Homo sapiens: one gene and its partner. The protein of the gene in region 1 purifies or fractionates together with the protein of each later gene. This does not show direct contact. Each region holds a gene or a part of one and is shown on either strand. Other genes may lie near its edges. The genes, in order: ATF7IP2 and ATF7IP.

The links.
Region 2: the proteins of ATF7IP2 (region 1) and ATF7IP purify together in Homo sapiens (affinity purification with mass spectrometry; one large-scale study listed by BioGRID and IntAct). This does not show direct contact.

Annotation. Positions count from the first base shown.
Region 1 is NC_000016.10:10,392,378-10,396,207, forward strand, and holds part of ATF7IP2 (activating transcription factor 7-interacting protein 2), read left to right. Parts: intron 1-3,830. UniProt on the Homo sapiens protein: Recruiter that couples transcriptional factors to general transcription apparatus and thereby modulates transcription regulation and chromatin formation. Can both act as an activator or a repressor depending on the context.
Region 2 is NC_000012.12:14,420,960-14,424,789, forward strand, and holds part of ATF7IP (activating transcription factor 7-interacting protein 1), read left to right. Parts: intron 1-2,949; coding exon of another isoform or gene 2,950-2,956; coding exon 2,957-3,830. UniProt on the Homo sapiens protein: Recruiter that couples transcriptional factors to general transcription apparatus and thereby modulates transcription regulation and chromatin formation. Can both act as an activator or a repressor depending on the context.

The DNA of each region.
Region 1 (3,830 bases):
ATGGTTTTGAACTCCTGGGCTGTTTGAGCCTTGGCCTCCCAGAGTGCTAGGATTACAGGTGTGAGCCACTGCTCCCAGCTGGTTCTACCTCAATTTTAATGGAAAACCTTTACCACTAAGTTAACCCCAGGCCCAAATGGCATTAGTGGTTAATTATTCTAATATTTAAGGAAAAATAACACCATTCACACAGAAATTGTTCAGAGACTAGAAAGACTTTGTAGTTTGTATGAGGTCAGCAAACCTTTGATATCAACACCCAATAAAATAGACCCATCTCTCATTAACATTGATATAAAAATTATAAACATAATGTTAGCCATTTATAGGCCAGGCACAGGCCCATAAATTGTCTAATGTCAGCACTTTGGGAGGCCAATGCAGGAGGATTTCTTGAGCCCAAGAGTTGAAGACCAGCCTGGGCAACATAGTGAGACTCTGTCTTTAAAAAAAAAAAAAAATTAGCTGGGTGTGATGGGCGCCCCTGATGTCCCTGCTACTTGAAGGGTCAGGTTAGAGTCTTGTTTGAGTCCCGGAGGTTGAGGCTGCAGTAAGCTGTGTTCATGCCCACTGTACTTTAGCCTGAGCAACAACGTGAATCCATGTCTCCAAAAGAAAAGAAAAATGAAGTTTTAAAAATGAAACCATTAGGCCAGGTGCGATGGCTCACACCTGTAATTCCAGCACTTTGGGAGGCTAAGGTGGACGGATCACTTGAGGTCAGAAGTTTGAGACCAGCCTGGCCAACATGGTGAAACCCCCTCTCTACTAAAAATACAAGCATTAGCTGGGCATGGTGGTGGGCACCTGTAATCCCAGCTACTTGGGAGGCTGAGGCAGGAGAATTGCTTGAACCTGGGAGGCGGAGGTTGCAGTGAGCTGAGATTGCCTCAATGCCAGTGCACTCCAGGCTGGGTGACAGAGTGAGACTCTGTCTCAAAAAAAAAAAAAAAAAAAAAAAAAAAGACACCATTGGAAAAATCCTATGGCAGTAAAGGAATAGAACAAAAGGCATGAGACATAAGCCAAAAAGTGAAAGGCAGACATAAATCAAGCTACAGGTGGACCCTGAATTGTGATTTGACATGATTTTTAGTTTATGATGCTACAGAAAGTGATAGGCATTCGGTAGAATATAAAGCCATGAGAAATTCAAGACTTCAGTATAAAATCAACTTTGGGTTAAATTATTTTGCTCAATTGTAGGCTAATATGAGTGTTCTGAACATGTTTAAGGTAGGCTTAGGTTTTGCTATGATGCTCGGTAGGTTAGTTGTACCTGTATTAACTGCATCTTTGACCTAGGATATTTTCAATTTCTGATAGGTTTTTTGGGATGTAATACTACTGCAAGTCACACAGCATCTGTATGTCAATAGTAATATGAAGGCCAGGTACAGTGGCTCATGTCTGGAATCCTAGCACCTTGGTAGGCCGAGGATCATTTGAGGCCAGGAGTTTGAGATGAGCTTGGGCACCATAGTAAGACCTTGTCTCTACAAAAAAATTTTAAAATTAGCTGAGTGTGATGGCACATACGTGTAGTCCCAGCTGCTTGGTAGGCTGATGTGGGAAGATCACTTGAGCCCAGGAGTTCAAGGCTGCAGTGAGCTCTGATCTCAGCACTGTGCATGATAGAGAGACCTATCTCTAAACAAACAAAAACAACCAAGTAATGTCAGGTGTGAAAGGATTAAACAATCCCATGAAATGGCAGAGATTTTCATACTGAAGGGAAAAACAGCCTTGGCCTATAGGCTGTTTACAGGAGACAGACTTTGGATTCAAAGATGCAAATAGGCTGAAAGTAAAAGGATAGATGAAGATACAACATGCAAATAGCAACCATAGTAAAGCTATCGTGCCTATACTGATTTCAGACAAAATATACTGAAACAGTATTGCTGGAGATACATAGGGACATTCTATAATGACAGAAGAGTTGGTGCCTCAGGCATACAAATCATAAACATATATGCACCTACTAAGAGAGCAGCAAAATGTATGAAGCAACTATTGACAGAATTGAAGGAAGAAATGCACAGTTCAGTAATAATTGGAGAATTCAATACAACACTGTCATAATGGATAGAAAACTGAGGAAATCAGTGAGACAAGAGACGACTTGAGCAACACTAAACCAACTAGACTTAAGAGATATCTTTGAACAGTCCACCCAACAACAGCAGAATAGACTTTTGGAGTGTATGTAGAACATCCATCAATATAGTCACACTAGGCCATGAAGCAAACCAACACACTTAAAAGGACTGAAATTATGGGAAAGAACATTATCTGACCAGTGAATAAAATCAGAAATCAGTACTAAAAAGAAACTTGAGAAATTTACAAATATGTTGAAATTAACACTCCTAAATAATGGGTCAAAGAAATCATGAGGTTAATTAGAAAATACTTTGAGGTGAATGAAAATGAAGACAAACATATCAAAGGTTTTGGAGGGTACAATTACAGCAATTCTTAGAAAATTTATAGTGATAAATGCTATATTAAAAAAGACCTCAAATCAGTAACCTAGACCTTTTAAGAAAAACTGGAACTAGAAGAACAAACTGAGCCTGAAGTCAGCAGAATGTAGGAAAAAATTAGTGTGGAAATTAATAGAATAGACAAAAATAGAAAAGGAAACCATAAATCATTTTCTTAAACGATCAAGAAAATTAAACATTCAGCTAAACTGAGCACAAAAAAGGGAGAGAAGACTCAAATTACTAAAATCAGGAATGAATGAGGGGACATTACTTCTGACCTTCCAGTAGTTAAAAAAAAAAATTATAAGGGAATACTATAGAATAATTCCAATTGTATGGTACTCCATTTAATAGATGAAACAGACAAATTCCTAAAAAGACACAAAACTGCCAGAACTGACTGAAGAAGAGGAAAATCTGAACAAACATAAACAAAGCAGTGGAATTAGGACAAAATGAAAAGCCCCAAATCAGATGGTTTTATTAGTAAATTCTACCAAACATTTAAAGGTACAGTTCTTCAATTCTTTCAAGAAATAGAAGAGGACAGAACATTTCTGAAATAATTCTGTAAGGCTAGTATTATTTGGATACCAAAAGCAGACCCCAATACTATAGGAAAAGAAAACTGCAGAACGATGTTTTTTTAATGTATAGAGATGTGAAAATCCTCAACCAAATACTAGTAATTTGAAATTAACATAAAAGGATTATACACCATGACCAAGTGAGATTTATTTCAGGAATGCAAAATAAATTTCTCATGCAAGAATCTTTAATGTTAAGTGCCATATCAAAGAGAACAAAGCTACATGATCTTTTTAAGAGATAGTGAAAAGCATTGATAAGATCCAGTGTCCCTTCATGATAAAAACATTAAACAATAGGGAAAGTTTGGAACTTCCTTAACTTGTTAAAAAGCATCTGTAAAAAAACCCACGGTTAACATCATAGTGGAGGATTGGAGGTTTTCCTGCTAATTCAGGAACAAGATGGACCCCTCCTGGCATTTCTATTCAACATTGTACTGGAGGATCTAGTCAGGAAAATGAAGCCCATTTTTTTTTTTCAAATAATAAAAGCATCGAAATTGGAAAGGGAGAAGTAAAATATACACGGATAACATGATTTAATATGTAGAAAATTCTAAGAGATTCACAAACCATTAAAGATAAAAGCCAGTTCAACAAAGTTGAAGGATGGAAGATCAGTGTACATAAATCTGTTTTATTTCCATATACTTGCAAAGAGGAATCCAAAACTGAGATTGAGGAAAGCATATATAATAGCATCAAAAAGTAGTACAAAACATATACTCTGAAAACTGCAGAATGTTGA
Region 2 (3,830 bases), on another chromosome or scaffold:
ACATCTTAGTCCTTAAAGCAATTTTGTTTTATTCTACTATTGATTGATGACATTGTTTTTCTTCAGAACCACATCCTTGTGCTCTTTTGTTTGCCTTTATTGCACTGGCCAGATGTTAACAAGGAAATGGTTACAGGAAACATCCTTGTTTTCTTCTGATCCTATTTCAATATCAGACATGATATCTCTAGTTTTCTTGGTAGATAACCTTTATCAGATTTGAGTAAGTTTCCTTGTATTCTTAGTTTCTGGCAAGTTGTAATTATGCATCAGTCTTGAATTTTGTCAAATGAATATTCTGTATTTGTTGAGGTAATCCTTTGTTGATTTTGTCCCTCTGTTCTGTTTATGTGGTGAATTAAATAGCTTGATTTGTTTTGTGGTTTTCTTTTTTGCTTAACAGAAGTTTATCGTCTCAGAGTTCTGGAGGCAACACATTTGAAATCACGGTGTTGTCATTGCCATTCTCCCTCTGAGGGTGCTGAGGGAAGGATCTGTTCCAGGCCTCTCTCCTAGCTTCTGGTAGTTGCTTGGCTTGTGGTACCATAACTTCAATTGTCACATGGCATTCTCCCAGTGTGCATGTCTGTCTGTGTCCAGATTTTCCCCTTTTTATAAGGACACCAATTGTATTGGATTAGGGCTCACTTTAGTACCCTTATATTACCTTGATTACCACTGTAAAGGCCCTATCCGAATAAGGTCACATTCTGAGGTACTGGGGCTTAAGACTAATATCTTTCTGGGGATGTGGGGTGTGGGATGCTGCACAATTCAGTCAGTAACATCCTGGTACCAGACATTCAGTTTAGGCAAAACTCGTAATTGTACACTCTGCTGGGCATGAAATAAAGTCAGAATGCATCATGGCTTGTTCATGGTCAACACTGCTTGATTTTTGAATGTGAAATCAGCCTTGTATTTTTCTAAGCGAGCTTCACTTGGTCAGAATTCATTACCTTTTTAAGAAACCTACTTCTAAATAAGTCATAGATGAAAGAAGAAATCATGATGGAAATTAGAAAATATTTTAACAGAATAATGTAAATGACACATTAAAATGTGAGATGCAACTAAAGCAGCTCTTAGAGGGAAATTTATAGCTTTATATGCACACATTACAAAAGAAGAAAGATTGAAAATAACACTTAAGCTTGAATCTCAAGGAAAAGGATGACATGTTAAGCTCTTTCCAAGAAAAAGTAAGTGAAAAGAGATAATAAATATTAGAGTAAATAATTAAAACAAGAAAGCAGATATAAAACCAAGAAATATCAGCCAAGTAAAGGTTCATACTTTAATAAGTGAATAGAATTGATAAAACTGTAGCACAACTTACCAAAAAAAGAGAATACACACACACACACACACACACACACACACACACACACACACACAACCTTTGTATTTATTTTGAAATTTTTTTGTAGTGGCATTACTGAGATAAAACCACATATCTACTATTCACCCACTTAAAGTACAATTCAGTTATTTTTAGTATATTCACAGAGCTGTATAATCATCACCATAATCAATGTTAGAACATTTTCATAACCCTGTAAAGAAATCCTGTACCCTTTAGCAGCTACTCCTCATTTTCTCCAGAATCTTCCAACCCTAGGTAGTCACTGATTTACTTTCTGTCTCTAGATTTGCCTACTCTGGACATTTCATATAAATTGAATCATTCAGTATGTGGCCTTTTGTGACTGGCTTCTCTCACTCAGCATATTTTTAAGGTTTATGCATGTAGTAGCATGTTCAGTACTTCATTCCCCTTTGTGGTTGAATGATATTCTGTTGTAGGGGTATGGCACATTTTATTTATCCATTCATCAGTTATGGAACATTTAGGTTGTTTCCAGTTTTGGGCCATTATGAGTAGTGCCTCTATAGAGCATTTGTGTACAAGTTTTTGTGTGGACATATGTTTTCATTTCTCTTGGGAAATGAATGGAATGGAATCACTGGGTCATATGACAACTCTGTACTTCACATATTGTGGAACTGCCTGTTTTCCAAAGCAGCTGCACCTATTTGCAATCCCACTATCATTGTATGAAAGTTCCAGTTTTTTCACATCCTTGCCAACACTCATTATTCTCGTTGATTGTAGCCGTCCTGTCGTGTGTGCAGTGTTATTTCATTGTGGTTTTGACTTGCGTTTCCCTGATGTCTCATGATGTTTATTGCTTATGGACTTTTGGCTTAGGGGTCTCTTTCTGGAAATGTCTGTTCAAGTCCTTTGACCATTTTTAAATTGGGTGATTTATTATTGAATTATAGCAGTTCTTAGATATTCTAGATATAAAAGTCTGTATTCTATATAAATATATATTCTGTATTCTAGATATGAAATTCTAGATTCGAGATAAAAGTCTTATCAGGCATATGATTTGCAAATATTTTCTCCCATTGTTGTGAATTTTCTTTCTTGATGGTAATCTTTTGTTAATATGTTTATAGTTCTGCCAATCTAAGTATGCTTGGTTGCAAATGTAATCTTTCCTTACATGTTTCTTAATTCTTCCTCCTTTTTCCTTTATCTCTATACCTGTTATTTCCCTACTGTTGTTCTTACACTTTTATTTTTCTTTCTCATTTTCTTCAGGTACTTTTTTTTTTTTTTTTTTTTTTTTACTTTATCTACCTTTTTTTTGCTTAAACATCTCCATACTCTGTGAATTCCATATTGGAAAAAAAAACTTGTCCCTTTTCCCCCTAATACTTTCTAGTTGATTTTCTAGTAGACTATGGCCATTTTTGATTTTGTATTACACAGATGCAGTAAATATGATAATTAGTATACAACAAGCAGTAGGTTTTCTATGTCTTAAACATTACATGAAATGTGCTGCTTGCATCTCTTCTAAGATCAATTTGTATTAAGTCTACAATTAGGTGGCTTCTGTTTCAGTTATTAAACTCTCTTTCTCTTTTTTCTTAAAGATTCAGAATGGACAGTTTAGAAGAACCTCAGAAAAAAGTCTTTAAGGCTCGAAAAACGATGAGAGTGAGTGATCGTCAGCAACTTGAAGCAGTGTACAAGGTCAAAGAAGAACTGTTGAAAACTGATGTCAAGCTGTTAAATGGCAACCATGAAAATGGAGATTTGGACCCAACCTCACCTTTGGAAAACATGGATTACATTAAAGACAAGGAAGAGGTGAATGGCATTGAAGAGATTTGTTTTGATCCTGAAGGAAGTAAAGCAGAATGGAAGGAAACACCCTGTATCCTAAGTGTTAATGTAAAAAACAAGCAGGATGATGATTTAAATTGTGAACCTTTGTCTCCCCATAATATAACTCCAGAACCAGTCTCTAAACTGCCTGCTGAACCAGTTTCTGGTGATCCAGCCCCTGGTGATCTGGATGCCGGAGATCCAGCCTCCGGAGTACTGGCCTCTGGTGATTCCACCTCTGGTGATCCCACCTCTAGCGAGCCCTCCTCTAGTGATGCTGCCTCTGGTGATGCAACCTCTGGTGATGCCCCTTCTGGTGATGTGTCCCCTGGTGATGCCACCTCTGGTGATGCCACTGCTGATGATCTCTCCTCTGGTGATCCCACCTCTAGTGATCCCATCCCAGGTGAACCGGTCCCTGTTGAACCCATTTCTGGTGATTGTGCCGCTGATGATATAGCCTCTAGTGAAATAACTTCTGTTGATCTGGCTTCTGGAGCACCAGCTTCCACTGATCCAGCCTCTGATGATCTGGCCTCTGGTGATCTATCCTCTAGTGAACTGGCCTCTGATGATCTGGCCACTGGTGAACTGGCCTCTGATGAGCTGACTTCTGAATCAACCTTTGATCGTACCTTTGAACCAA